2 separate regions of the Homo sapiens genome follow, and region 1 is linked to region 2. The links come from fine-mapping of genetic effects on gene expression. A gene starts in region 2. The other region holds a variant in brackets. All regions are shown on one strand. Distances are from middle to middle.

Region 1 (15,914 bases), 660 kb after region 2:
GGTGGGCATGGTGGCTTACACCTGAAACCCCAGCACTTTGGGAGGCTGAGGCAAGAAGGTTGCTTGAGCCCAGGAGTCCTAGACCAGCCTGGACAACATATTAAAAACATGACTCTACAAAAAATAAAAAGAAATTAGTGGGGTGCGGTGGTGTGCACCTGTAGTCACAGCTACTCTAGAAGCTAAGCTGGGAAGACTGCTTGCGTCCACCTTTTTGAGACAGGAACTCACTCTGTCACCCAGGCTGCAGTGAGCCAAAATCGTACCGCTGCACTCCAGCCTGAGTGACAGAGTGAGTCCCTGTCTCAAACAAACAAATAAAAATTTATGTATAACTTTTTATGTGGACATGTTTTCATTTCTCTTGCATATATACCTAGAAATGGAATTACTGGTAATTCTGTTTAATTATTAGAGGAAATGCCAGACAGTTTTCTAATGTGACTGGACAATTTTGCATGCCTATCAGTAATTTATGAGAGTTCCAATTTCTCTACATTCTCACCGACACTTGTTATTATCTGACTTTTTAAACGTAGTCATCCTAGTTGGGTGTGAAGTGGCATCTTCCGGTTGTTTTGATTTGCATTTTTCTGATAACTAATGAGGTTGAGCATCTTTTCATTTGCTTTTTGGCTGTTTGTATGTCTTCCTTGGAGAAATGTGTATTCAGGTACTTTAGCCATTTCTTAGTTTGTTTATTTGTCTTTTATTATTAAGTTGTAAGAGTGCTTTAAATATTCTAGATAAAAGTCCCTTATCATGTATATAATTTGCATATATTTTCTCCTATTCTGTAGTGTGTTTCTTTAAATTCTTGATAGTGTTCTTTGAAGCATAAAGCTTATTGAAGTCCAGTTTGCAATTTTTTCTTTTGTTGCTCATACTTTTGGTGTCATATTGAAAAATCCAAGGTCATGAGACTTACTGTTTTGTTTTCTTCTAAGAGTTTAAACTTTTACATTTAAGTCTTTGATATATAATATCTTGAATTTATTTTTGCATATGGTATGAAGTGAATGTCCAACTTCATTCTTTTGCCTATGACCATCTGGTTGTCCCAGCACCATTTGTTGAAAAGAATATTTTTCCCCATTGAATGGTCTTGTCACTCTTGTCAAAACTTATTGACCATGGGTATATAGATTTATTTCTGGTCTCTCAATTATATTCCATTAGTCTATATGTCTATTCTTGTGCCAGCACACTGTTTAATTACCATTGCTTTGCAGCGAGTTTTGAAATTGGAAAATGTGAATCTGCTTACTTTGCTCTTCATTTTTTAAAATTATTTTGGCTATTCTGGGTTTCTTGCAATTTCATATGAAATTTAGAATCAGCTTGTCAATTTCTGCAAAAAGTTTGTTGTTATTCTGTTAAGAATTGCATTGATTCTGTAGATAAGTTTGGGAAGTACTGCTATCTTAACAATACTGCTATCTTAATAAATAATTGCTATCTTAACAATAAATAATAATGAATAACAAACATTCATTGTCATCTTTATTATATATCCAAATAATACATAATCCAATAATCCAAACAATAAGTAAACCTTGCAACCCATAAGTTTAGGTTTTTTAAAATTTCTTTCAACTCTATTTCATAGTTTTCAAAATATACATTTAGCACTTCTGTTATTTATTTCTAAGAATTTTATTTTTTTGATACTAGAGTAAGTGGAATTATTTTCTCAATTTCATTTGCAGGTGGTTAATTGCTAGTATATAGAAATAAAATAGATCTTTTTATATTAATCTTGTATACTACAACCTTGTTTATTATTTGCTCTTGTAAACGTGTAATAGTTTTTAGTGGGCTTTTTAGTATTTACTATATATATACAACATCATGTCATCTGCAAAGAGAACTAGTTTTACTTCTTCTTTTCCAGTGTGGATGCTTTTCTTTTTCTTGCCTACTTGCCATGGCTTGACTCTCTAGTGCAATACTGCCTAAAAGTGGTGAGAGCAGACATCCTTTCTTGTTATTTTGCATGGTGTTGACTGTGAGATTTTTGTAGCTGCCCTTTATCAGGTTTAGGAAATTGTCTCTATCAAGAATACTTGACTGGAGCTCTCCATTCTTCTGATCCACTGTGGACAGGTTGCTCTCTAGGAAAGCCACACAGCAGTTGTCCTGGAATTTCCCTTTATTGTCATCCTTAAAATTTTACTGATATTTTTCTAGAATTGATCATTTTTGCTGAATACTACCTCTGTCTTTCTTAATTTACTTCCTTATTTGTTCAAGTATATCCTCCAATAGCTTCCCATGAATTAGTAACTGACATATATTTCTGCATTTCTAAAAATGACTTTAATTTATTCTCATCATTGATTGATAATTTGGCTATCAAATTATTCATCAAATATCATTTTCATCAATAATTTTGAAGACATTGCTCCAAGGTCTTCTATCTTTCATTATAGCTTTTGAGAAGGCTAATGCAATTTGGATTTCCTGTCTCTTGTAGGTGACCTTTGTTATTTTCTCTAGAAGCTTTTTCTTCTTGATGCTCGTTATTTTGAAATGTCACATTTTATGTGATTTGTGAGGTCTGCCTTTATTTTTTTATGGGCCACTTGTGCTGGACACCTACAATTTGGAGATTCATGTCTTTCTAAAAATTGTTTTTTACAGTTCTTGATAGTTAATCTATTTTGTTTTTTCTTTTCTCTATATATTTTATATAAAATAGTTGCTGAACCTCACGAATTTTTCCTTTCTTTTCTATGTTTACTATTTTCACATTTTGTGTGTGTCTGTGTGTGTGTGTGTGTGTGTGTGTGTGTGTGTGTGTGTTAAGTTTTGGTCCTTGGCTTTATCTTTCAGTCCTTTTATAATGTTATTTATTTCTATCATAGTTTTATTCTCTTTTCTTTCCTTTCCATAGCATCCTACTCTTGTAATATCTCATTGAGAATATTAGATTATTTTCAAATTTTAAAAACTATTTCCTGTATTGTCAGTTTCCAATGGGTATCTTTGTTTTTGTATTTGTTATGGTAGCTCTTTTTTATTACTTTATTGTTTTAATATTGTTTTAGTGAGGTTTGCAGAGGCAGAAAAATACTGTGTGATCAGTCATTTTTTTAAAAAAAAATATACTGGGTTAAATAGTATCCCCATATAATACATGTCTCCTGAGAACCCATGAATGTGGCCTTATTTGGAAATTGCAGAGGTAATCAACTTAAAATGAGTTCATACTGGAGTAGAGTGAGCTCTGAATCTAATATGACTGGTGCCATTATAAAAAGAAGGTAGGCCAGGCACAGTGGCTCATGCCTGCAATCCCTTTGGGAGGCCAAGGCAGGTAGACCACTTGAGCCCAGGAGTTTGAGACTAGCCTGAGCAACATAGGGAGACCTTGTCTCTACTACAAAAAAAAAATCGGCCAGGCCTGGGCATGGTGGCATGCATCTATAGTCTCAGCTACTCAGGAGGCTGCGACAGGAGGACTGCTTCAGCCCAGGAGGTTGAGGCTACAGTAAGCTGTATCATGCCACTGCACTCCAGAGCCTATGTGGCAGAGCAAGACAAAGACAAAGAAGAAGAAGAGGAGGAAGAGGAAGAGGAAGGTGGCAAAGAGGAGGGATATTGGAACACAGAGATAGATACACACACAGGAGAAATGGAAGGAATGTGAAGACAGAGGCAGAGGTTGGAGTGATACGTCAACAAGCCTAGGAACACCGAAGGTTGACGGCAATCACCAGAAGCTAGAAGAGATAAGGAAGGATCCTGCCCTAGAGCCTCAGAGGAAACATGGCCCTGCTGTCATCTTGATTTCAGGCTCCTGTCCCCAAGAACTGTGAGAAAATAACTTCCTGTCATTATAAGTTACCTGGTTTTTGTACTTTGTTAAGGCAATCTTAGGAAACAAATATCCTCTTCCTCATTAAAGTTGGATGTAGAATTTAGCAGGAACAGAAATATTAACTTGCTTTTTTAAAAAATGTCTCAGATTAGTTCCTTTTAAACCTTCCTTTTTTGAGAAAGAGAAAACTGACACAATCCAGAGTCTAGCACCTCTTCCCTATAATCATTACCAATGTTGTAAAAGTTTGGCTGCCTCTCCCTGTTCAGTGGTTTCTCCTGGCCTGTTCAGTTCAAGCAACACTAGCAGTATTTTCCACCCAATGACATGTGAGTAGAATAAAACAGTTCTTCCTATGGTGATAATTGAAAATAAAATTATAGTTTTATATATTTAACTAATTAGAAGTTTAGCTAATGACTGCTTTTCATATATAATTTTAGGGTCTGGGCAGTTTGACGGCTTTTTTTTCTAAATCAGATTGGCATTCATTTTTCTTTTATGTCTAAGAATTTGTTCAGCTCTGCTACTAATTTTACTTAAATATTTTTGTTTCAAGACTAGTGAGAGATAGAAGGAGATGTAGGAAACGAAAAAGAAAGCCAAAAAAAGAAAGTTTAAGAAGGAAATACTCAACTGTCTAGCAAATGCCACATAATCCAAGTTAAATATTACCTAGAAACTGTTTTATGTGGAGGGAGTTAATGTCATCTTTGGTGTCTTAAATACTGTCAGAGGCCAAATTGCAGCAGGCTCATGATTGCATTGGAAGTGAAGAAATGGATATGTTTAGAGTGCTCTACCCTTTCAAGAAGTTTTGTTTCAAAAGGAAGGAAACAGGGGCAGTTATAATACTTTCAGAACAGAAGTGACTAAGAGTGCTTACACTCAGAAAACAAAGGGTCTGAAAGAGCCAGTGGAGCTGAGGAAGTTGAAAATATAGGACAAAAGGAAAGATAGAGATGAGATAAAGAGATGGAGTGATAGCAATAAAGAGTTAGAGAGCTGATAGAGAGAAAGGAAGAGGGGAGAGAGAAAATTGGTAGAGAGATTATCTTGAGCAGGAGGGTGTACAAATATCCAGAGAACAACATTGATTAGCATCAGTTTTGGACATAAGCACAGCCCCTGAGACTAGAAAGAGAAATAACTGATGTGGACGCAGCTTTGTTTTCATGGAGTTAAGTGAGGAGGGACAGGAAATTGAGAACTCTTGACTTTCTGTGGAATTAGAAGGCAAAATCATGTGCTGAGTGCATTTATAGAAAGAAACTAAATAAGCTAAAATCATTATTTTACCTTGAAGTCAAGGTAGCAATAAAATGACAAAATAAGCAAGTGCTCTAAGAGCTCTCTTTAAAACAACATGGAAAGAGAATCATTGAGTAACATCGAGTGTCCTAAACACATGGCTTCTTAGTAGGCCATTAACAGAATTTATGGATTTCACACAGCCCATCCATCTTCTATTTTTAGTTCATTTACAAAACAATAAATGACAGGTACAGACTGTGGTTTCAGATGCTAAGAGACTGGTAAGTTCTGCTATTTTATCTCTGAAGGCTGTAAGTATCCTGTTTTGGTTGGAAAAAAAAATAGTGCTTCCTCTAAAAGACATCCATTGAGGATGTGGCTTTTTGAGGTACAGTTTTGCTTTTATTTGCCTAAGTGCTTGCTCTTCAGAGTGTAAGAAAAAGCTGCATGGAAATTATATTTGACTTCATCTGGTCACACTGTCTTATTCCAGAAAAAAATTAGTACAAGAAGTATGTAGCTCCTGTAGATAAAAGTTCCTGATATAAATTTCTAAATTCAGTAAAATACAGATAAGTTACTTACTGAAGTATTTTATATCAAACTGCTTATTTAGAAAAGAAAGTGCTTTCATCACCTAAGCATATAATTTATTCAATCGTCTCAATTAAAGGAATGCATTCATAATTGAACATGGCACAAATGTTTGCTAGAATACTAAGAGACACGCAGAATAAGACTCTTGTTTACAAAAAATAAAATGTATAGAGACATTTGTAAAACACAAACATTCCAGGAAGAATTGAAAAAGTATTTTTATAAGTATTGCTGTTTCTATTTATCCTTGCTTTTGCTATGTATATAAGTGTATTCTAGACAAAAAGGGAGAGTAATGGCATAGGTACAATTTTTGTATTCAGCTTAGGCACATAGCTACTTGTAGCTGGCTCCATTTCCAAGTGAAATCATACAGTAATTGGTATGAGCCAATCCAAACTTGGATAAAAACTCTGTCTATTTCTAGCAAGTTAATCAATCCTACCATTATGCTGAACCACTTTGTGATGCTTTTCTTCCTGTCCATTGGGTTACTGTGAAAAAGCAAAGTTGCATTAAATGTGGTATCTGTCTTCTTGGCTTTTACTTTTTCTGCCAATGATTATTTCTGAATGGATTTTAGTTTTGCAAATTATAGCACAATGTCAGGGTCAAGAATGATAAGATGAAAAATATAGAATTATGGAAATGATCCTAGCAACACACAAAAACTTTTATTGTACGTATGCAAATGAGACTGCTTTAACTTAAAAATCAAATAGAAATTGAGCATTCTGATTACCATAGAAATAGAAGAACTGAGTTATTTAAGTGCCCATTTTCTTAAAATAGCAGGGTAATATCAAGGCATTTTGATGTTTGTTGGGAGCTGGAAGAAGCAGTATGTGGGCTGAAAGACCTTATATACTTCATTCAACATATTAATTGATAATAAAACATTACTTTCATGATATTTTATAATTTTCATTTTATACTAGATTGTTTTTCTTTAAAAATAGAAAATACAACAAGTTATTTTTAAACTGTTACATAATAGAAAATTTCTTTTAAGTATCCAATAATTAAACCAAGTGGAAAGTAACAAATATTTATAGTAATAAATCGTTTGTAACCATACAAGAGTACATACACATTGGACATCAATGTTATTGTTCATGAATTCTTGACTACTTTCCATATTTAAAAATATTTTCACAAACGTGGTATGCAAACTGAGTTTAGCGTTCACAGCCAAGAAAACTAGATAAGCCATAAATGTATCACTTATGTTAACACAGTTGTACATACCTAAATACCTGATAATAACGCACATCAAGTGATTAACTTACTGGTTTGTAATAATTTGGGTATACTCTGTTTTTAAAACAGAAAGCTCATTTTGATGGTCCTACATTCCTAGGCAATGCTGGGCCCACAGATTACCCCTGAGAGCACATCAATATATATTACCAAGGATACTTATCAAAATTTGTATGTTTTTGATACATTCATAAAACATTCCAAATTATTAGCATTTTGGTTTGTCTTCTAGAGCCTTCTTATTCAAATGCATCCCTGAATCAGCAGTATCCACGACTCCTGGGAGCTTGTCAGAAATACAGACTCTCAGGCCCCACCTCAGCCTTGCTGAATTGTGATTTACATTTTAACAAGATCCCCAGCCCAGGTGATTTGTGTGCACATTAAGAGTTTGAGCAGAGATGCTCAAGGAATTAAAAACCTAGTATATTGGAAGTTTTAAAGGTTTTCAGGTGGCGTAGGAAATAAATAAATTCCAAAGAAAGGCAGCCCAAATCATATTCAACTTTTTCACATCTTAAATTCTCTTTAGAATCTATATGTTGCAATTTGGCCATTGAGTGAGTCAGTTAAACGAACAGGCACAGTTCAGGATTTTGTAGAAATAAGAGACTTTATTATAAAGTACTGTAGTTTGGAAAATTTTTTTGAAAATAGAAAAAGATATGAAAGGATGATTAGCAATATGTTTTCTGGTTAATTTCTTCAGCATTTTAAATCACAGTTTCAATAATATTCAATCTGTCACTGAATCAAAGGCAAAAATCCCTAAATAATGAAGTGATTAAGCACTCCATTCACTTTCATTGCATTAATTGAAAATATTTCCAAAGCTAAAGAAGTTGTAATGCAATGGAAAGTACACAGGACTTGGTCCTATTTCAAAAATTGTCTAAATGTATGTTCTGGAAGTTTTCCCACCATCAGGTATTGCGTTCTGTATAAACATTTTTTGAATAAATGAATTAGTGAGAAATCAGAGACAAAGGCTATTCTTTCTAGAATGTACTGTAACAGGAAAAGATAGAAGGCAATATTCCAAAGGAATATGTATTCAAAATATTTTTGACTGTTTATTAATCCAGAGAGCCCATTTGTTATTTTAAAATAAGAATTGCATTATCGGCCGGGCACGGTGGCTCACGTCTGTAACCCCAGTACTTTGGGAGGCCGAGGTGCGTGGATCACCTGAGGTCAGGAGTTTGAGACCAGCCTGGCCAACATGGTGAAACCCTGTCTCTACTAAAAATACGAAAATTTGCAGGGCATGGTGACAGGCGCCTGTAATCCCAGCTACTCGGGAGGCTGAGGCAGGAGAATCGCTTGAACCTGGAAGGTGGGGGTTTCAGTGAGCCGAGATCGTGCCATTGCACTCCAGCCTGGGGAACAAGAGGAAGATTTTGTCTCAAAAAAAAAAAAAAAAAAAAAAGAATTGCGTTATCAAGAAGAAAGGATACTCATGTTTGCTAATCAGCACATTCTCTTCCTGGGGAAAATATGTGTCAGAAGCAATGTTATAATCAGAAAGTTACTGTGAACCCAAAACATTAGATGGATGATTATAATGGCTACTGCCATCATGCCTGAAAAACTGATAAATAGCTTTTTGCCTTAAGATTACACTAAACCCACAGAATAGATGCTTGTCTTTGCGAGTTCAGGGCACCTCTTCATGTGGTCAGTTATAGAGATATTTTGTTACTATTTGCCCTTCTGATTCTTGTTTCTTTC[T/G]TTTGGAAAAAACTGCTTGGAATGAAAGCAAGAACGGATTAAAGGAGGCCAATTAGGAGCCAATTGCGTGTGTGTCTGTGTGTGTGCATGTGTGTGCATACAAGTGACCTCAAGTAAAATTTGGCTTGGACAATCTTCATTTACTCCTGTTTAGCATTTGTCCAGGATTTTTTATTTTTATCAAAGTATTTGTATCAATATTTGCATTAAAATAATCAGAGATGAGTTAGATCTACTCTTTGTATTCCCAGCTTGTCAGTTGGTCAGGCGCATGGTTATATATTTAAAACAATATGCAATAGCTACCTTTTCTAGAGCCTTTCCATATTTAGTAAAACTAACATCTCCCTTTCAAACAGCATATAGTATGCTCACTGAGAAAACCAAGTACATTTGGAAGTGAGTGGCTAAGACAGTCAACTCTTTGCAGTTTCAGGTGGTGATGGGAGAAGTTTTGAAGCCGCAGCCTCTGCCAGACACTTGGTAAACTAGCCAGCTCTGTCATGGCAAATACCACAGACTGGACAATGCACGAAATTACCAGTCAACAGTCAGCAGGGTCAACAGGAAATACGGCAAATGAAAGGTTAGCTATATATGATATTTCTACTGTATAATGTAGAGAATATAATCTCTTGGTACAGTAATTTGGTCATTTATTGTAAGTCTATAAATATTTATTTTATTGTTTGGTAAAGCTTTTTTAGTTTGCAATAGATTTTGGTAGCAATGAACTGAAAACATGAAAAGCAAGTGCTATAGTTTGGATATTTGACTCTCCAAACCTCATGTGGAAAGTTGATCCACAATAATGGAAGTGAGGCCTAGTGAAAGATGTTTGGGTCTTGAGGGCAGATCCCTTATGAATGGCTTGGTGCACTCGTCATTGTAGTAAATGAGTTCTCACTCTATTAGTTCCCAGGAAAGCTGGTTGTTAAAATAAGCCTGGCACCTCCCTGCCCCTGCTTCCTCTCTTGCCATGGGATCGCTAGACAGCAGCACCGCTCTGCCTTCCACTGAGTGTAAGCCGTCTGAGGCTCTCACCAGAAGCAGATGCTGGCACCAGGCTTCTTGTACAGCCTGCAGAACTAGGAGCCAAATAAACCTCTTTTCTTTATAAATTACATAGCCTTGAGTATTCCTTTATAGCAACACAAATGGTCTAAGACAACATGTATAATAAAAAATTTAGTACTGGTTGCCTGTAGTTCCAGCTACTCAGGAGGCTGAAGCAGGAGGATCACTTGAACTCCCAGGAGTTCAAGGCTGCTGTGAGCTACGCTTAAGCCATTTCACACCAGCCTGGGCAACAGAGCAAAAAAAAAAAAAAAAAAAAAAAAAAAAAAAAAAAAAAAAAAAAAAATCGTACTGAATATCCATTTCCATTTTTAAAACAAGTGAATAATATAAATTTGCACAAAAAAAGTTTATCCATGATTACTATTCACCATAGGGACCACAGTAAAGTCAGTAGTCACTAGAAAACCAGAAAACACAAATCTCTGAGAAACCATCAATATCTATTCAAAAGCCAATCACTGGCTGGGTGCGGTGGCTCACGCCTGTAATCCCAGCACTTTGGGAGGCTGAAGCGGGCGGATCACGAGGTCAGGAGATCGAGATCATCCTGGCTCACACGGTGAAACCCTGTCTCTACTAAAAATACAAGATAATTAGCCGAGCCTGGTGGAGGGCGCCTGTAGTCCCAGCTACTCGGGAGGCTGAGGCAGGAGAATGGCATGATCCCTGGAGGCAGAGCTTGCAGTGAGCCGAGATTGTGCCACTGCACTCCAGCCTGGGTAACAGAGCGAGACTCGGTCCCAAAAAAAAAAAAAAAAAAAAAGTCAATCATTATTTTAAGAATGTTTCCAAAGACAACAATTTAATACCTGCAGCTGCTACATTCCATTTTGAAAAGCATGAGTTTTCATTTAAAACAAATGAGTGTTCTTCTAAATAATTTATTTTCAATCCCAATTTTTTTTTTTTTTTTTTTTTTTTTTTTTTTTTTTGAGACGGAGTCTCGCTCTGTCGCCCAGGTCGGACTGCGGACTGCAGTGGCGCAATCTCGGCTCACTGCAAGCTCCGCTTCCCGGGTTCACGCCATTCTCCTGCCTCAGCCTCCCGAGTAGCTGGGACTACAGGCGCCCGCCACCGCGCCCGGCTAATTTTTTGTATTTTTAGTAGAGACGGGGTTTCACCTTGTTAGCCAGGATGGTCTCGATCTCCTGACCTCATGATCCACCCGCCTCGGCCTCCCAAAGTGCTGGGATTACAGGCGTGAGCCACCGCGCCCGGCCCAATCCCAATTTTTATGCACATATGAAAAGTGAAGAAAATAGCTCCAATGCCAGTTTTATATAAGTGTAATTATATGCTTCAAATAAGAAATTTTGTTAGTTGAATCCAATAATGCTTCAGAATATTTTCCCACCCAATTCATGGAATCAAAATCAAATCAATAAAAAATTTTAGAGAAGGTGAGCATCTGTCATTTACAACATTACATCAATGTAAAATCAGTTTAAAAGTTCAACATTTAAGGTACATTTAGATACATTAAGACACAGTTTTTAAAGGTTCATTTTTACAGTGAAATTATGAATACAAATTTTGGTGGAGTCAGGATTATGGTAAACACAATGTTGCAGCTAAGAAATCTATCGTATCAATTGGCCATGCCACATTAACAATAATGCTCCCTAATAAATCACCCCCAAATTCAACAGTTTAAAACATTTATCTTCATGGCTACGTGATGGCCAGCTAATATCTGAATCAATAATCAAGAGTGAGATGATGGTATATCAGAGGAGGGCAGGAGTGAGGCCTTGGGTGGTAATGAGAAGTAACTGAATTTAAATATATGACAGTGAGAGGTGAAGCCAGCTGAGCTTCTGGGCCGTGGGGACTTTGAGAACTTTTGTGCCTAGCTAAAGGATTGTAAATGTATCAATCAGCGCTGTGTGTCTAGCTAAAGGATTGTAAATGCACCAATCAGCACTCTGTTAAATGGATCAATCAGCGCTCCGTAAAATGGAACCATCAGCAGGATGTGGGCAGGGCCAAATAAGGGAATAAAAGCTGGCCACCCGAGCCACCAGTGGCAACCTGCTTGGGTCCCCTTCCACACAGTGGAGGCTTTGTTCTTTCGCTCTTCACAATAAATCTTGTTGCTGCTCACTCTTTGGGTCCGCACTACTTTATGAGCTGTAACACTCACTGCGAGGGTCTGCGGCTTCATTCCTGAAGTCAGCGAGGCCACGAACACACCGGGAGGAACAAACAACTCCGAACGAGCCACCTTTAAGAGCTGTAACACTCACTGCTAAGGTCTGCGGCTTCACTCCTGAACCCACCGGAAGGAATAAACTCTGGACACATCTGAACATCTGAAGGAACAAACTCCAGACTCATCATCTTTAAGAGCTGCAAAACTCACCACGAGAGTCTGCGGCTTCATTCTTGGAGACCAAGAACCCACCGGAAGGAATAAATTCTGGACACAATAGGCTTTGCATCAGACTGTAGCAGCTGAATCCATTGATCTGAGCTCCATTCAGCTGACATAATAGTTCATGTGTTTCTCATTCTTCTCCTGGTACCAGTGGGCTAGATCAGGACATGTTCTTCTCATGGTGATAGCAAAAGCTTAAGAGGGCAAGCACAATTACCGAAGATCTCTTCAAGCCTGGGCTCAGAAATATTAATAGCACACTATCAAATCTGTCTATATGCCACTGGCCAAAATAAATCAAAGGATGGGAAAGTACAATCTGCTTAGGATGCCAAGGGTATGGATACAAAGAAGGATGCAAAGACTTGGGCTAATGTAGTTTGATCTAGAAACCCTTCTGGCAACAATGAGCTCAAAAACAGACATATGCTGTATTTGGAAGTGGTTCTGGTAGACACATAATTAATTGCAAACTGAAAAAGTACAATATTCTATAATCAACATAGAGAATGTAGGTGTCAAAATTTACACATTTTTATATGTGTACAGAGTAGGTAAACTACAAAATTTTTGTGATAAAGTTGATCTTAAATAAGTTATAACACACTTCAGCATAGCAATACATGCTTTTTTTTCTCTTTGCTGCTCATCATCAATAGGATTTTAAGAAATGTTTGCTACTTGGAAAAATTAGTTTGCAAAACAACCTAAAAGGCTTACAGTGAACTGAACTTCTTTAAAAAAACACAAAGCCTCTAAATTTTGGTTCATTTTGTTCAAACTTAAGTTTGGAAATCTTTAATCAAAATGTTCTGCAAATAGAGCAATAAAAAAACTGCAGCTTTTCAGGCTTATAGAAAAGTAAAATGGAAAACAATGCTTAACACAGAAAGGCATTAAAATATATCTACATAACCAAGGTAATGACTGAATAAATTAAGAAATGAGAGCTCAAATGATGTACATAATTTTGGAATACTATAATTTTACTTTGAAATACTTAAATTTGTGGGATGAACTTTTTGGTGTAGGTCTTTTAACAAATTAATTTATAATTTCTACTAAAATTGAATAAAACACCTATAGATTTAAACTTGGTGAAATACACAAAAGAATAAAAAAGAGACACTTATGTGACAAGTTATTTTCTTTTGTTTTATTTTTTCTTTTATTTGGAACGGAGTCTCTCTCTGTCACACAGCCTGGAGTGCTGTGGCGCAATCTCGGCTCACTGCAACCTCCACCTCCCTGGTTCATGCCATTCTCCTGCCTCAGCCTCCTGAGTAGCTGGGAGTACAGGCGCCTGCCACCACGCCTGGCTAATTTTTTGTATTTTTAGTAGAAACTGGGTTTCACCGTGTTAGCCAGGATGGTCTCAATCTCCTGATCTCGTGATCCGCCCGCCTCAGCCTCCCAAAGTGCTGGGATTACAGGCGTGAGCCACCATGCCTGGCCATTTTAACAAGTTATTTTCTTATGAAATACATATGAAAGAAAGGTTTTTAAAATGCAGACAATAAGATAAAGCCTGTTAAAAATATCTAGGTTGAAATATTTGTACATTTGAACACCAAAAAATAAAATAAAATAAACAATAACCTCCGTTTAGCAAAATTTGCTCAGGTCTTACTGGGCATCTTACATCTGTAAAGAGAATATTTGTTGTTTTTTGTTTGTTTGTTTGCTTGGTTTTTGTTTTTGAGACAGAGTCACGTTCTGTCGCCCAAACTGGAATGCAGTGGCGAGATCTCCACTCACTGCAACCTCCGCCTTCCAAGTTCAAGACATTCTCCTGCTTCAGCCTCCCAAGTAGCTTGGATTACAGGCCCCCGTCACCACGCCCAGCTAATTTTTTGTATTTTTAGTAGAAACGGGGTTTCCCCATGTTGGCCAGGGTGGTCTCAAACTCCTGACCTCAGGATATCTGCCCACCTCAGCCTCCCAAAGTGCTGGGATTACAGCCATGAGCCACCATGCCTGACCAAGAGAATATTTGTTTAACTCAAAATATAATGGTCCACATAGAAAATCAACCTAAATTTTCAAAAATTCCAAATTTATTAGCCATAAGATACAACTTTGAAGAAGATTGCACGTAATTTTATGAAAACTGAAAATAATTAAACAGTATTAAAAAATAAATTATTAAGAAAAATTTCAGTGGCATTATATATAGACATGGATAACAAACTGCTTAAAGAACATGAATAGTGGGCCAGGCATGGTGGCTCATGCCTGTAATACTAGCACTTTGGGAGGCTGAGGCTGGTGGATCACTTGAGGTCAGGAGTTCAAGAATAGCCTGGCCAACATGGTGAAAACACATCTCTACTAAAAATACAAAAATTAGCTGGGCATGGTGGCGAGCGCCTGTAATCCCAGATACTCGAGAGGCTGAGGCAGGAAAATCACTTGAACCTGGGAGGTGGAGGTTGCAGTGAGCCAAGATCATGCCATTGCACTCCAGCCTGGGCGACAAGAACAAAACTCTGTCTCAAAAAAAAAAAAAAAAAAAAAAGAATAAATAATATGAACAGTTTTCAAGAATAATTATTCTGCTTATATTTTTAACATTAATATAATCTATAAAATCGATATTAAAACTTTTGCTTTATGAACATGGACATATGCCACTTTTTATTTTTAGAAATTATTTTACAGTTTCAGCATAAAAATAATTGTTTTTAAAGAGATAAATATTTAAAAATATGTAATTTTAGAGGGGGCCTCTTTCATTCTCATAAATTTCCTAGATTGAGATTTAAATAAATGGTCAAACCTATATTTCAGCAGTCTAGGCATAACGTAATATAGCAAAAACTACACAGATGATAGTTGTCAGAAATGTGGATAGAGTTTAATTATTTTTAAGTAAAATCAATAGGATATGAAGTAGACAATGCTAGGTTTTATAAGTTGATGTGTGGAACTAGTTGTTTAGTAGAAGGTGTTGACCCTCATGGGATGAAAATTTAAAAGGCGGCAAAAAGAGGTACAGTTTGGCCAGAAACCAGTTTTCAGGTGGAGAGATTCAAGAGACATTGATACATAGGTCTGAAGCCTACAGAAGTCTTGGCTATTGATATAAATTGAAGGTACAGCTTCTTCTAAATAATGTGAGGGTTAATATTGAGTGTCAACTTAATTGGATTAAAGGATGGAAAGTATTGTTCCTGGGTGTGTCTGTGAGGGTGTTGCCAAAGGAGATTAACATTTGACTCAGTGGAATGGGACAGGCAGACCTACCCTCATTTTGGATGGGCGCCATTTAATCAGCTGCCAGCATAAAAGCAGGCATGAAAGGAGCAGACTTGCTGAGTCTTCTGGCCTCTGTTTTTCTCCTGTGCTGGATGCTTCTCGCCCTCAAACATCAGACTCCAAGTTCTTCAGCTTTTGAACTGTTGGACTTACAGCAATGACTTACCAGGGGCTCTTGGGCCTTCGGTCACAGACTGAAGGCTGCACTGTCAGGTTCCCTACTTTTGAGGTTTTGGGACTCAGACTGGCTTCCTGGCTCCTCAGCTTGCAGACAGCCTATTGTGGGACTTCACCTTGTGATGCTGTGGGTCAATTCTCCTAATAAACTCCCCTTCATATATTCATCTATCCTATTACTTCTGTCCCTTTAGAGAACCCTGACTAATACACCATGTTAAAGGCATTTCTCTTATCAAATGTACAGAGTTCAATTCATTTGAAATCTCTGAATGTAATTATTTTAGGTGTTTTGAAAAAATATTAGGTAAAAGATAACATATTCTGTATTTGTCTTGTTATGATAGACCAGTAACA
Region 2 (15,914 bases):
CCAGCCTGAACCTTAGTGTTTGAAGTGTGTGTGTGTGTGTGTGTGCGTGTGTGTGTGTGTGTGTGTGTGTGTGTGTGTATTCCATGTACCTAAAGATGCAGAACAAATTTGTTGTTCACTGGGGTGACTCCCACACTAGACTGAAGAAAAGCAAAGCGAGACTCCTTCTTAAAAAAACAAAACAAAACAAAAGAAAAACTTCACAAAAAGCAACATTGGACAATTCATATCTCTGAAACTTATTGGTGTTTACAAAATCCAGCTAATCAGATTTGACAAGTTTAGGGTATGTCACTAGATTAATCTGTGGGTTTCTATAGCACTTATTATCCTCCACATAGCAACACAAAATACTCATATAAGCAAAAATACTCACTTGTAAAATGCAAAATGTTAAAAATGTATGCAATTGTTTTTGTATTATTTTTACTCAGACATTCCCTGTGATCTATTAAGTGACAATGTAAAGTATAAACAGTTTTTGTGCTACACTTGATCCATGGCAATATAAATAATTCAATTTATGCTGGAATTGGGAAATTTACTTTTTAACAAACATCTTCAAACACAATGTAATATAAAAATAGATTTTTAAATATACATTTTGATTTTTAATTAAATAGTTTTGTTTCTTTCTGCTTCATTTCACAGAGTCACTTAATAAAATCCATGGTACTTACAGAAAAATTCCTGATGTCATATGCATGTGTTTCACTATAAGGCAGTTATGAGGTTGATAAAATTTCTTCTACAAATTTTTTCATTAGACATACGCAAATCAATAAACGTAATCCAGCATATAAACAGAACCAACAATAAAAACCATATGATTTTCTCAATAGATGCAGAAAAGGCCTTTGACAAAATTCAACAACGCTTCATGCTAAAAACTCTCAATAAATTAGGTATTGATGGGACGTATCTCAAAATAATAAGAGCTATCTATGACAAACCCACAGTCAATATCATACTGAATGGGCAAAAACTGGAAGCATTCCCTTTGAAAACTGGCTCAAGACAGGGATGCCCTCTCTCACCACTCCTATTCAACATAGTGTTGGAAGTTCTGGCCAGGGCAATCAGGCAGGAGAAGGAAATAAAGAGTATTCAATTAGGAAAAGAGGAAGTCAAATTGTCCCTGTTTGCAGATGACATGATTGTATATCAGAAAACCCCATCATCTCAGCCCAAAATCTCCTTAAGCTGATAAGCAACTTCAGCAAAGTCTCAGCATACAAAATCAATGTGCAAAAATCACAAGCATTCTTATACACCAATAACAGACAAACACAGAGTCAAATCATGAGTGAACTCCCATTCACAATTGCTTCAAAGAGAATAAAATACCTAGGAATCCACCTTACAAGGGACGTGAAGGACCTCTTTAAGGAGAACTACAAACCACTGCTCAATGAAATTAAAGAGGATACAAACAAATGGAAGAACATTCCATGCTCATGGGTAGGAAGAATCAATATTGTGAAAATGGCCATACTGCCCAAGGTAATTTATAGATTCAATGCTATCCCCACCAAGCTACCAATGACTTTCTTCACAGAATTGGAAAAAAACTACTTTAAAGTTCATATGGAACCAAAAAAGAGCCTGCATTGCCAAGTCAATCCTAAGCCAAAAGAACAAAGCTGGAGGCATCACGCTATCTGACTTCAAACTATATTACAAGGCTACAGTAACCAAAACAGCATGGTACTGGTACCAAAACAGAGATATAGACCAATGGAACAGAACAGAGCCCTCAGAAATAATGCCGCATATCTACAACTCTCTGATCTTTGACAAACCTGAGAAAAACAAGCAATGGGGAAAGGATTCCCTATTTAATAAATGGTGCTGGGAAAACTGGCTAGCCATATGTAGAAAGCTGAAACTGGATCTCTTCCTTATACCTTATATAAAAATTAATTCAAGATGGATTAAAGACTTAAATGTTAGACCTAAAACCATAAAAACCCTAGAAGAAAACCTAGGCAATACCATTCAGGACATAGGCAGGGGCAAGGACTTCATGTCTAAAACACCAAAAGCAATGGCAACAAAATCCAAAATTGACAAATGGGATCTAATTAAACTAAAGAGCTTCTGCACAGCAAAAGAAACTACCATCAGAGTGAATAGGCAACCTACAGAATGGGAGAAAATTTTTGCAGTCTATCCATCTGACAAAGGGCTAATATCCAGAATCTACAGTGAACTCAAACAAATTTACAAGAAAAAAACAAACAACCCCATTAAAAAGTGGGCAAAGGATATGAACAGACACTTCTCAAAAGATGACATTTATGAAACCAAAAGACACATGAAAAAATGCTCATCATCACTGGCCATCAGAGAAGTGCAAATCAAAACCACAATGAGATACCATCTCACACCAGTTAGAATGGCAACCATTAAAAAGTCAGGAAACAACAGGCGCTGGAGAGGATGTGGAGAAACAGGAACACTTTTACACTGTTGGTGGGACTGTAAACTAGTTCAACCATTGTGGAAGTCAGTGTGGCAATTCCTCAGGGATCTAGAACTAGAAATACCATTTGGCCCAGCCATCCAATTACTGGGTATATACCCAAAGGATTATAAGTCATGCTTCTATAAAGACACATGCCCACATATGTTTATTGTGGCACTATTCACAATAGCAAGGACTTGGAACCAAGCCAAATGTCCAACAATGATAGACTGGATTAAGAAAATGTGGCACATATACACCATGGAATACTATGCAGCCACAAAAAAGGATGAGTTCATGTCCTTTGTAGGGACATGGGTGAAGCTGGAAACCGTCATTCTCAGCAAATTATCACAAGGACAAAATACCAAACACCGCATGTTCTCACTCATAGGTGGGACCTGAACAATGAGAACACATGGACACAGGAAGGGGAACATCACACACCTGGGCCTGTTGTGCAGTGGGAGGAGGGGGGAGGGATAGCATTAGCAGATATACCTAATGTTAAATGACAAGTTAATGGGTGTAGCACACCAGCATAGCACATGTATACATATGTAACTAACCTGCACGTTGAGCACGTGTACCCCGAAATTTAAAGTACAATTAAAAAAAGAAGAAAATTCAACATAGACAAAATCTCTCTTTGCACTATAAAGGTTTATTTTTTTCTTCTGTAACATATCTGTGTTTGGGTATATCCAATGATATATCCAAAGTATAGCAAGTATTTAGGCTCAAACTGCCATGGTTTTGACAGTGATTTTTTTTTTAAAGTAAGCCAAAATAAATAAAAATGGCATAAAACCTCATAAGGATTCATGTAACGATTACATGGAGAAATTATTTCCCCAGGTAGAGCAAGCCATCTAATTATTTCAAATATTGAAACAAATCTAGCCATTCATATAAATCACCCACTCATTAGCCTAATGGATCTTTGAAAGTATATCAATGGGGGTTGGGCGCAGTGGCTCACACCTGTAATCCCAGCCCTTTGGGAGACCGAAGCAGGTGGATCACGAGGTCAGGAGATCAAGACCATCCTGGCTAACACGGTGAAACCCCATATCTACTAAAAATACAAAAACATTAACCGGGCGTGGATGGCGGGCACCTGTAGTCCCAGCTACTCAGGAGGCTGAGGCAGGAGAATGGCGTGAACCCGGGAGGCGGAGATTGCAGTGAGCTGAGATCACGCCACTGCACTCCAGCCTGGACGACAGAGCGAGACTCCGTCTCAAAAAAAAATAATAAATAAGTGAAAAAATAAAAGTACATCAATGGGATGCAATTGAGTTAATATTCAATAACTTATCAAAGAAGGAAACTTTTATTGTTTCTTCCAGACCACTCAAAACAGTCAACAATATATATTAAACTTAACACAAATTTTAACTTTTTTAAAAATATCTCAATATGAAGTCCTTTTAGAGTTGACAAAGATGTCAGTAAGACGTAATAATAAAAGCAATTTTTATTAATTATCTATGATGATATGGACATTGTACTATGTATGTCCCTATGCAAGTCTTTAACAATGTAAATTCAGCAATTATTATATTACTAAGTTTTCTATATAAGATAATTTACTTTTATTAAAGGAAATATAACAAATACTTACTAGAGACAGAAGAGAGCTGAGAATAGAATGGAGTAAGTAATAATAAAGTCACTAAACTAAGGCAGTTGTATGTTTGTTGTCATAATATATAGCCAGATTATAGCTAGGAGAGATTTTTAGAAATTAATACTGAACCCTGGAGCTTCAAGGTAGATGTTTCCATTGAACTGTAAAATAGGATTAATTCAACGAAAATGCTAAAATTATGGGGAAGCTAGCAGTGGAAGTATTGTTGGTTGCTTCACCTTGTAACAGTATTAATACACAGACTTACTTATATTGCATTTCTTTCATACAAAGTATGAAAATACTATAAAATAGTATTTTAATAGTACTATAGTACGTTAATAGTATTTAAATAGTATTTAAATTTAATGGTATTTTAACAGTACCATAAAATACTATAAAATAGTATAGTATAAAATACTATAAAATGCAATACAAATAGCCTTTTAACTTATTTACATTGCAATACTCACAAATGCAAAGTATTATTTTTGCTGAATTTGATGCATTTCCTCTTTATTATACATTGTTGACTGTGAACACTTAAGAGTTAACTTTTATTATTGTTATTCTTTATGAGGTGCTTAATTTCTAGCTGAGAAGTAAAAGTTCAACAGCATGATACTTACTCTTAACTACAATGATGTATTAATATAAGAAGTATAAACTCCTAAACTTAATAAATTCTAATAGGATTTCTATGTTGTCAAGTTTAGAGTAAATAATTCAATATATTCAGCAATTCTTTGGGAGTAAAGATATGCGGTATGAAGAAAACAAATTACTATGTAAAAATAAACTATGTCTAAAGTATAAAATAAATATAAAATAGCAGATGTTTACACATAAAGGGAGGATCAGTGGAAGTTATTTTTAAAAAGTGAAAATATTTTCCATTGTATTTATTGATATTATTCTTCAAATAAATTCTTTTCAAATAAAATATTTATTTCATTCTGCAAAAAAACCTTAAAATACAACTTGCAAAATACTCTATATTAATGTCAATCATTTCATATTTTTCAGTTAATTTGAATTGAGTAAAATATCTTGAAAATTAAAAACACCTCATAATGTCACTAGCTCAAAATGACCAATATGTTTGCAATAGCATTTACTAAAATCTACATAATGCTTATCACCTGCCAGACACTACACACTTTAAATACATAACTTATCTAATATTCTTAAGGTGCCATTACTACCCCAGGTTAGTTATCTTGTACATATAGCTAGCACTAACTGACATACTCAGGAATTAAAACTAGGTGGTCTACTTAGGAGACTGTACCTTTAACCATTGCTCTACCCCACCTTCTGAGGAAAATGATTCTGCCAGGGTCTGTATGTATTTGAAAGTCATTAATTAAACTATAATCAATCAGAGATGTCAAATGTGAATATGCTTTTCTCATTATGAAAGTGAATTTGTGAGTTACAAGCAATGAAAAGGAAAGTGAGCATAATAAACATGCCAAAAGATTAAACAGTGTAAATGTTAAGAATAGGGACAGTACAGATAAAAAGCAAATAATCATATTTAACATTCGAGGTCATACCATTTAAATTATCTACATGTACCAGAAAACTACAGTGGTATCACTTATAAATTATGCCCCAAGAGAACCGTCTCATTAACCTTGTTCAAAACATTAATGGTACTTTATTTCTAAAATAATAAACTGATCAAAATGTTTAAACAATGTTTTGTTTATTAAACAACACTATTCATATACCTCACATTTCTACAGAAAAAAAGTCAATCTTTATTTTCAGAAAATTTGACATAATTTGTTTTTACCTTTTCAGATACAAAGGAGTATAGAGATCTGACTCTATTATTCTAAGCCTGAAGTCAGTCAAGAAGAAAGTATGACTCTTAATAAATGTGGATCTACTTTCCTTTGAAGGTATCTTTGAAAGGAGCAGTAGGAGGGAGAGCAATGTAGATCTTCTCTAAAACTGAATTTCAAAGGATTTATTTGGCCCATCTTCCACATGGGAAGAATTAGAATTTTTTTTTTTTTTTGCCTTTTATTTCCCATTGTGAGACCCTAAATGGGAAAATAAGTCCAGGTTATGTAGGTCTCTATGTGGTATTAGATGCAATAGCAGCCATAGTGCAAGGAATGTAGGCCACAAAGGCCTGTGTAACTGGCTGCTGTGAACTTTAGTGGCAAACCTTAAAAAAGGGAAAAGAAAAAGGAAAGAAGACCTTTAGCACTTCCATATAGATCTCAACATCACTCAAAAAACTTTCTTCAACTGGGTCTGATGCATTAACGAGATCATAGAATTACTGCTAATTTAGAATTACATACTTTGGTGAGGAAAGTTTATTATTACAAATAAAATGCCATAGTTTATAAAAAAGAATTGGATGTGACAATAAGCCATATTTTAATATGTGGTTTATTATTGTGTGGATTAAAAGCAGAAAGCTTAAATTAAAAAGATAATTCCTTGAATTTCATTAAACAGTTTTAAAAATTGTTTTGCAGGTATTTAAACAGTGTAGAAACACTGTGAGATATATACATATATATATATATATATATAATGTCTTAAAATCCCAACATTTTAAAAGGAGCTCACCTCCTTTTAAAATTATGACAGATGAAAATTATGATAACTGTAATGTAAAATTAGGCAAACAAGTAAATAAAATTAAGTAAATAATGCAATTTTACCTGGTGCACTTATTAACAATATTCTTATTATTCAAATCTTACCTTTTCTTTATAAAATCTTCCTTAAACTATGATAATTCTTGTAGTTTCTGTATAATACCCAATGTCTGAATGAATATTCAAAAATCAGTCTCATTAATGTTTTAAAAACGCAACTGCTAAACAAACCATGTTTAAGTTTTTCAGCTATGCTAGCTTTTGCATCTCTTGAAACATAACTACTGGGCCAAGAGTTTCTAAATGATTTTCCAGTAAATGACATCTGTATTGAAACCTAAGACACACAGGCACTATAGTAAAGGTTCTGAAAAATTTCATTTTTTATAATCATAAATAAAATTAATCTATGATTTGACGAGGAAAAGAATTATTAGAATAGCAACATGAATCATATTTAAAAGAATATACAAGAGAATTAATTATTCCACAAAAGGTAAAAGAAATATTTTGTTTTGTTTTGTTTTTGGTCAGCAGTGGTTCAGGAGATGAACCAACTGTGGGCTCTCTGGCTATCATTATACAAATTTATCATCAATGAACCAGTGAAGCACGAAACTGAGGGTTAATATAGAATGAAAAGAGACTTTCCCCTCAATATATCACTTTAGAAGCATATATTCTGAGTTCTAAAAGCAATAATCTTCCACATAAAATTCAATACAAGAGTGATCTCCAACCACATTAGATCAAATTATGGCAAGATTCAAATAATATCTAATCCAGGTCCTCATCTTATATAGGAATCCCTGGCATATGGTCATTTCAGCCTCTTCATGGATACCCACAATGATGGGAACTTCAGCCAACAGGGTGCTCACAAATTTTTGGAAAACTCTGTTAGAAAGCTCATGATTTAATGAAAGTAAAGCTGCTTCATCCTTTCAAATTTCTCATAGATTTATCACCATTTTGTCCTGTGGGCTATCACAGGATAGTCAGAATTCCTTTTCTTACCTGATAGCTTTTCGCTATTTAATGATAGCTTTCATTCTTTCACTTCTCCACGTTAAGTCTTTCCACGGCATTTCATAGAATACATCTATAATACACAATAATCTTCCTTTATTTCTCTTTTGAACTTACTCTTTGCTAGCGTGACAGTTTGCCAACGTCCGCCTCAACAAGGAGTGCTCAGAATTGAACACAACATTTAAGATGTGATGATCATTGCAAACTATAATAGGGCATCCGTTTGTGGGACTCTATTAAGTCCAATTTAACAACGCTTAACTTTTGCAGCCACGTTCCATGACAAATATCAAGCATTTGGCCAACAAAACCATGGTCATTAGTTGTGTAGTAGACTTTTCGTACCCAAAGATCTTTCCATTTATGTCTATTCCTATAAGGTGGTATTTTGACATCGAACATGTTAACATGAATCTCTGTATTTGAACCTTAGGTATCTTATCTTCAAAAATATCAAGTTACTCTATTTTCCTTCCTACCAAACTCATATCCCTTCAGTGTTAAATAGTATGGAGCTATGTTGACTTATAATAACCTATCTCAATTTATTACCTCTTAATACTCAAGAATACCCAAGGAAAACATTTTCTTGTATGGCAATTTACATTTAAGAAACCTTGCCCAGTACTTCTTTTTATCTTGTTTATTTTAAAACAAGTTTTTTAGAGAATAATTTAACAGTGCGGTACATCTCCGTAAAAGCATTTCTTAGTAGTTGATCATGATTAAGCGGCAAAATGCAGGTAATGACATGCTCAATTCCACCTTTGAGTCAGGACAAACAGTGTACATCGACGACAACAACAAACCCTTATGCTAATATGCCTGTGACGCAAATATCCATACATACCGCACACGAATTGTGCAGTGAGCTAAAAAAGAAAACAGAAAAGAAAAAAGCTACTACTTTATTCTACTTAAAGTTGTCCTCTATTCAAACTTTTATCTCACTCTTCTCTCCTTCTGCACCATAATTTTCTTTCGAGCAAAGACAGGGAGTTCTGGATGATTCCAATCTCCCCAAATCCACATCACAGCCTCCAATTGAGGTTCATTTAAGTCAGGTTGGAGCTGAGGGAGCCTGGGCTGGAACCGGCCAGGGTTTCATCCAGCTCCTCCCCCAAAACACGCCCCCCAAATCGGAGCCAGAGGAGAGCCCAACCACAGAGGACTTCCACTCAATGAGGGCAACCCCTGAGTAAAGTCCATGCGGACAACCATTCATCTCCTCCGACAACCATTCATCTCCTCCGACCCCCGCCCAGCACTAGACTGCGCTCCTAGCACCGCGCCTTCTTCCGGAGCCTCCTCCCCCGGGCTGGCTAGGGGTGAGCGCAGGGGTTAGTCAGTACGCACGTGACGCGCGATGCCCACATGACACGACCGTGAGCGGGGGAGGGGGACACGGAGTGAAGAAGGGGAAAAGTTACAGAAGACCCGTCAAAGCGCCCAAAGCAATTTGTCCCTTCTTTTCTTCGCCAGCGGTGGCTCACGGATCCCTAAGGGACAGCTGGGGACCCAGGCGCCCCCAGCCCAGCCCCAGAAACGCTGGACGCAGTTCTCCGCTCACCCCACCACCTTCTCTTCCCAGACCCGCTGGTGATGCCGCTGCACCCTGAAGTTGCTCCTTCCTTCTTTCCCTCCCTTCCTCCCATTCTTTCTTTCTTTTCTTCCTTCCTCCCTTCCCCAAAAGCTCTTCATCCGCTTCGGGTGATGCCACTGACGCACATTCAATTTGCCCCAGCAGCTCTGAGGAGGTCAGACCAGGCCGAGCACCTTCCAAAGGGGAGGGTCTAACTGAGCAAACAAAGTTGCACGCCACACCACAACCTGCCCCTCCCCTCCCTTTAGCCCCCAAGTCGAATCCCCGGCGAAACTCACTTGCACTGCGGGTGCTCTCTGGCCCCCACCCCATCATCGCGCAACACACCCCCTTCAACATGCGCGGCCACCCTTTCATTGCCCTGCGCCCCGAGCGGTCCCACCGCCCGGCAAAACACTGAGCAAGCCGCTGCTCTCACCTTGCTTGACACACTTGAGCCGGAGGGGGTCCTTGCAGTGTTTGATCACGGCCAGCACGTCCCTGATGGTGAGCCCCGCCACGGGGGTCTCGTTCACCTCCAGCAGCAGCTCCTCCGACACCAATTTGCTGCCGCTCTCATAGGCCACCTTGCCGGGCTTCACCTCCCCCAGGTAGGGGAACTGTCCATTCTCGGCGCCCCCCTTCAGTTCAAAGCCCAGCTGGCCCTCCGGGTTCCTGCCAATGACACTCTCATGGACTTTGCTAGTCCAGTGGCTTTTCTTTTTCAAGCTTTTGGACATGGCAGTGGGGCGAGTCGCCTCAGTTCCTGGGCTCCTTGGGGTTAGGGGGGCTGGTGGTGAGAGAATGAGGATGGAGGAGCAAGGGGGCCCAGGGGGAAGAACAGCAGACTTTGCCTTCGCCCCCCTCTATTCGGTGCTTTCCCTCTTCTTTGGATGGAGTGTGGACGAGGAATGGGGAGGATGAGAGGGACGGCTGGGCAGAGGTAGGAGAGCTTGGATGAGGTTGTGCTGTCCCTTGAATGACACTCAAGGCTGTGGCCCCGCAGCAGAGGAAGCAGTGGTGGTGGCGTCGGCGGCGGCGGCGGCGGCAGCCGGAGCGAGCAGTAGCCGAGCTGGTGAGCGGGTGTGGTGGGGGTGGGGAAGGAGGGTAGGGATGCCGGGGGCCACTCCTGCGTGGTGCGAGTGGGAACGCGCGCGCGCGCCTGGGTGTGTGTTGTTAGCTGATATCCATGGCAGCTGCAGTGGCAGGGTGCGTGTGCGTGTGTGTGTGTGTGTGTGTGTGTACTAGTTCTACTGTACTGGCAGACGGGAGGAGGCAGGGGAGGAGGGGCGCGCGCGCCGGGTGGGGAGCCACGGAGGGCTTCGCCGCTGCCTCCCTCCCTCCCTCCGCAGCTTGACCCGGTAGTGAAGGCAGAGAGAGAGGCAGGCTGGGTCCGCCTGGCAGCCTACGGGAGGAGGCGGGAGCCGGGAAGGAGGGGAGCCTAGGCCCGGCGTGGGGAGGCCGGCAGGAAGGGCCTCGAGCCCAGTGCGGACCTTTCTTCAGCCTCTGTGCGACCGAGCCGCGCGCCAGGCTCCTGTGCGAGGAGGACGCGCTGACTCCCTCCGACCTGGGCTCCGATGGAGCAGAAATAGCGGGACCTGGACTTGTGGCGCGCCTGGTGCCACATCTCGGGCTCTGCGAGCGTCCTGGCGCGGGATCCTGCCGTGAGAAGGAGTTGGGGCGGGGGACCCGGCGGGGCATTGCGGGAGAAGGCCTGGGATCCCTGGGAGCCTTGTAGCGTGGGGGAGTTCACTGTGTAGAGAGGTTTCATGTCTTCATCTATATAGTCACTTATTTGTCTTAAAGTTCTCGAAATTCCCTCTTAGAGAAGGAGAAAGTTAGAGAACTGGAGGCTGCGTACCCTGATTACGCAGAAGGGAAGCAGCCTCGCATTCCCCGGGGCAGGCCCCCGCCCGCGCGTCCCGCCAGTAGGGGAATTTAGCGGACGGCTGCGGTTGTCTGGTGAAAGGCTATCCAAGGATAAGGGGCTTCACTTTTCCCAAGTAGGGGAAAGAGAAGGGGTCTACAGGGCTAGGGGTGGAGGGAGCGGATGCAGTGAGCAGCCTCCGCAGAGAAATTGACAATTTAACCAGGGACCTGCGGCAGAGACAAGGCGGAGACACTCCCTTGCCCAGGAAAGCCGCCAGAGTCCGGCTTGTACCTGGGGAAGAATCCTTAAGACGGTCTGGCCCAACACTCCTTTGCTCACAGAGAAAGGGGAGAAGACTCCCGAGGGTGAAAATGGTACATTCGGAGCTGGAACTCAGCTCGCTGACCCCAAGCAGTGTTCCCTTCTTTTCGCCAGGTTTGCATCCAAGAGAGGGGAGGACAGGGGCAAAAGGATGCAGGGAGGCTGCTGATTTCCACTGAAGAGCTAATTTCCTGTGAGACATTAACAGTGATTTAAGAAAAAGATTCCTGTAACTGGTAAATGAATTTCATTTGCTTAACTTTTAGATGATATGTTTCAGGCAAAAAAAAAGTTGTGCACCCACTTATCTCTTTAAAGCGGAGGATGAAAAGCATTGAATAGGTAGGATTCTTAATGTCTGAGATGAAGGCGATGTAGGAGGCAAACAATACGGTTAAAAATGTTGAGTCGACCCAAACAGAAAGACCAGGTTTCAATCCAGACTCTGCGGCTTACTGAGAATATGATCTTGAGTAAACTGCTTGACCTTCCTGAGCCTCAGCTTTCTTAGTTGTTAAATGGACTTTAACAATACTAATCTGTTAGGACTGTGGTGAGGATGAAATCAGGGAAATCAGTCACAGCAGTGCTCTCCTGGCACAGGTGAGTAGGAGTTCGAAATGATAATTCCCTCCTCTTTCCCTCTTAGGTATAACTTACTACTTGGGGATGAGGGGGATCAAATGTAGTCAGAACTGGAAGAGATCTTAAAAAAAGATGATTTGTTTAACCTTGTGTCTTTTTTTCACTTGAGAAAACAGATCCTCCGTAAGTTGGCTGCACTAGTTGAAGCTTATTCAGTGAGCCAGGGGCAGTGCCAGGATCTGAAGCCAGAGCTGCAGGCAATGCCCAGGAGTAGGCAAGACTTGATAGCAAAGCCTAATCTCACCCAGAGAAGTTGAGTGTTAGCATTATGAGGCATAGTTCTAAATGGAAACTCATCATGAGAACCGAATATATACATATTGTAAAACCAAATGACAAGCTACCATTCATGGAATATACTAATATTTATTAGGTTCTAACTACATGCAAGATGTTGTTTTATAGGCTTTACACATAATACTTAATTTCTCCTGACATTTTGATAAAATAGGTACTGTTATCTCCTTTTACAGGTAAGGAAACTGAGGTATACAAGGATGAACTTTTGCAAGGCTACAAATCTTGTTAATAGTGAAGCTAACGTTCAGACCCAAGTGGTTCGGCTCTAGACTTTGTCTCAGTTACTGAATTGAACTCTCTGTGCACTTACGATGTGTCATACCAGTTCTCACTACATAGTGTCCCAAAAGATTGGGCCTGCTCTTTCTTTCAGAGACAATTAGGAAAAAAGTAAACAAACGGAGCAGGATTTGGGCATAACAGCATGCTCCTCCCATCCCCCAAATCCCAGGAGTGTCACTGAGGTCAGTGCCAGTTAACTTAGTGCTCTTCAACTTCACAGCTACCCTTCTTTGCCCTAAATTGTGACATTAGAGCTGAAATCTGTAAACGTCTTTATGGTCAGTTGGCACAGTGTTTAGCTTTGTCAATAGAAGGTGCTAGGGGAACACTGCAGAAAGAAAGGGGCTCCTTTTCTTGGTTCCAGTGCTTTCCTGCTTGCTCCTACGGTGTGGTGGCCAGTGAGTGACTTTCTGACCAGTGGTGTGCAAGAAGGCCATGTTACATAATCTTCAGTAAATTTGGCCAGTTCCCTAGTATGTGTCTTTCTATGGAGTACCACTGGCATGTCAGTGGAATGGCTTCCTAGCAAGTTTTACTGAAAACACAGCTGATGGTTTCCTCAGCAGCCCAGTGTGTGACACCTTAAATTTCTGGATCATTAAGTGGACCACAGCCATATTATTTCCAATGAGCGCCTACTTTCAGGCTTAGTAGGGTGGAGGGTGGGTAGGGGGAAGTTCTACTCAGTTATTCCCTCCTTGGGTACTCTCCTAGAGCCTGAGAGATAGTGGCTGTTCCCAATAACCACTATTACTGTATTCTTTAGTGGGATTTTTTCCTGTCCTAATAGTCAATACCCTTTGACTGGATCTTAACTGATAAAAGTGGAACCCTGAGGAAAGCACTATCCTTGGAGTCAGAAATTGGGATCAGATTTTTTTTCTTTCTCTTATGGTATTCCTCATATTCGCTTAATTTCTCCACTGCCTTTACCCTTTTTGGATTTGATGCTATGTCAAGAAAAAATTATTTCATCACTGAGCACTCTGAGTGTAGAGCAGAGTGCTAAATATTGCATGCTATTCCAGAAGAAAAATAGTTTAGGAATCCTAAAAGCCAAAGAAAGAAAGATATGAATGCATTCAGTTCTTAGAAGAGTTCTATGAGATAGATGCTTGTGGCAGACATAGTCTCCACCCAGATCTCCTAGGATCCCTTTGGTTGAATCTGAGTATCCTTCCTCTAGCTTCTGTGTTCTTTTACTTCTCACAGCCTGCCCCGAGAATCTCTTTGGAGGAAGGCCCAAACACTACTAGACTCACTTTGTGTACTGGCATAGAGAGCCAGACAGAACCACCTGCAAGTTTACTTCTTTCCCAGGATACCCTTTGCCAAGGACTTTCCTATAGAGTATAAAAGACCAGCCGTCTTGCCTCTAGTAGCAAGAAAACCTGAGGTGTAATTTACACCCTGAGGCTCCCCTATAGAATTATATTGATGTTAATATTTTGCCTGAAACCACCTTCTTCCCTATCTTGCTTACTGTGGTACCTGATGAGTTTTTCTTGGTAGCATTTCTATAATAAATCACTTGCAGACAATCTTCATCTCAGGGTTTGATCCTGGGGATCCTGACTTAAGACATTGCTATTCTTTTTTTTTTTTCTTTTACAGATGAGGAAACTGAGGATCAGGGCTTTTAAATTGCCCCAAATCACACTACTAATAAGAGATAGAGTTGTGGTACCTTTTTTAGAGGGACCATTATTCTGCTGACTGCAGTACTGTAGAGCATAAAGTTTCTTATCCACACTGTTTCTTAGTTCAGTCTGTCAATATCACTACTCCACGATTATTGTTGTTTGTTTTTCTTTCTCCCTGTCTTTTACCTCAAAAATCTCTATTGTGATGCCAGAGAGACCTTTCTGAAACCTCTCCTTTTTTCTGTGTTTAAAACCCCCCAGTGCCGCCCATGAAATACACAGCAAAGTCCAAACTCCTTATCTTGCTTGGATCCTCCTTTCCACCCTTTTTAACTGTTCAGCCATATTTCTCCATGTACTTCTGAGATTGGAACCCAGGGCAACAAAGCTAATGTGGGTTCTCCAAGATTAACACAACTGAAAGGAGGCCCCTTTATGCCATCTATTCTAGGTCCCTTGGAATATAATTAAAAACAGGAATTTCAACATTGAAATGTAATGATGTTCAGGTAAGGGCAGTAAGGTACATTGACTTGAGTCAATCTCCCACCATGTCTGGGGACTGGGACAGCTGAGCCAGGGGTCCTACCTAAGGGTCAGGCCTGTGTCTTCACTTCTCCTTTCAACCCTTTACTTCTTCCAGAGTTGAACGGCTTACTTTCCTTCTCTCACTAGGCCATTTCATGGCTTGTGTTTGCCTGAAATACAACTCTTTCCCTCCCTGGTCTACACCTGCTCACCCTGAAAGAAATACCTCTGAGCCCACTTTCTTTCTTGGAAGCATTTTATGACTCTTATTTCTGTTATCAACACAGCTTTTATTTATGTCTCCATGTATCCTTTGAAGAAACACAACTTTTCAGGTTCTATGTTTTATTTGCATTCTTAGTGTCTGGCACATTGTCTGACACAGTGTAAAAGCTGAGTAGAATTTTGCCTGATAGCAGATGTGCCTGAAGTGAGGGTGTCCAAAATTTCATTAAATGACGACTGCTTTAATATGAATTCTTGGCTAAGGCAGGAGAATCGCTTGAACCCAGGAGGCAGAGGTTGCAGTGAGCCGAGATCACACCACTGCACTCCAGCCTGGTGAGAGAGGGAGACTGCATTCTCAAAAAAAAAAAAAAAAAAAAAAAAAAAAAAAAAAAAGAATATATATGAATTCTTACTGATAGTATTAAATGATTATCTCTTTACATTCACAGTAATGTCTTACAATAACAGAATGCAGGAGAGCACATATCAATGAAGAAAAGACAAAATGTACTTATCCATGAAGCTGAGGTTAAGAAACCAGTGTCTTCAAGAGCCAGGGACAGCACTGGGTCTGTGCAGAGTTGAGAGATGGTGATGACATGGTGAGACACAAATTCAGTCTATTTCATAGTTTGTGGTCATTCCTATTAATAAACTTCCTTTCACAACTGTTTCAATATTCACACAAAAATGTTAACCCAATCTGCAGTTGTACCCCTTGAATGTAAAATAAAAAACAAAAGCCCACAAAAATAG

What was found. PIP is the estimated chance that this variant, and not a neighbour inherited with it, causes the effect. A credible set is the group of variants that fine-mapping cannot tell apart.
Region 1: its variant is the best candidate, but not a certain one, in a credible set for the expression of MAGI2-AS3 in cerebellar hemisphere (GTEx, PIP 0.58).

Annotation. Positions count from the first base shown.
Region 1 is chr7:80,102,128-80,118,041 of GRCh38, forward strand. No RefSeq gene overlaps it. Among named protein-coding and RNA genes, the nearest start is that of GNAI1, 25 kb to the right of the region's middle. The variant T/G (reference allele first, on the strand shown) is at 8,666.
Region 2 is chr7:79,443,240-79,459,153 of GRCh38, forward strand. It overlaps MAGI2-AS3 (MAGI2 antisense RNA 3), which reads left to right and starts at 9,718. Exons shown (of 4, transcript NR_038346.1): 1 at 9,718-9,952; 2 at 10,348-10,416; 3 at 15,608-15,760. MAGI2 (membrane associated guanylate kinase, WW and PDZ domain containing 2) reads right to left here and starts at 10,428. Exons shown (of 22, transcript NM_012301.4): 1 at 9,781-10,428. The coding sequence starts at 10,081. RefSeq lists an enhancer at 8,874-9,168.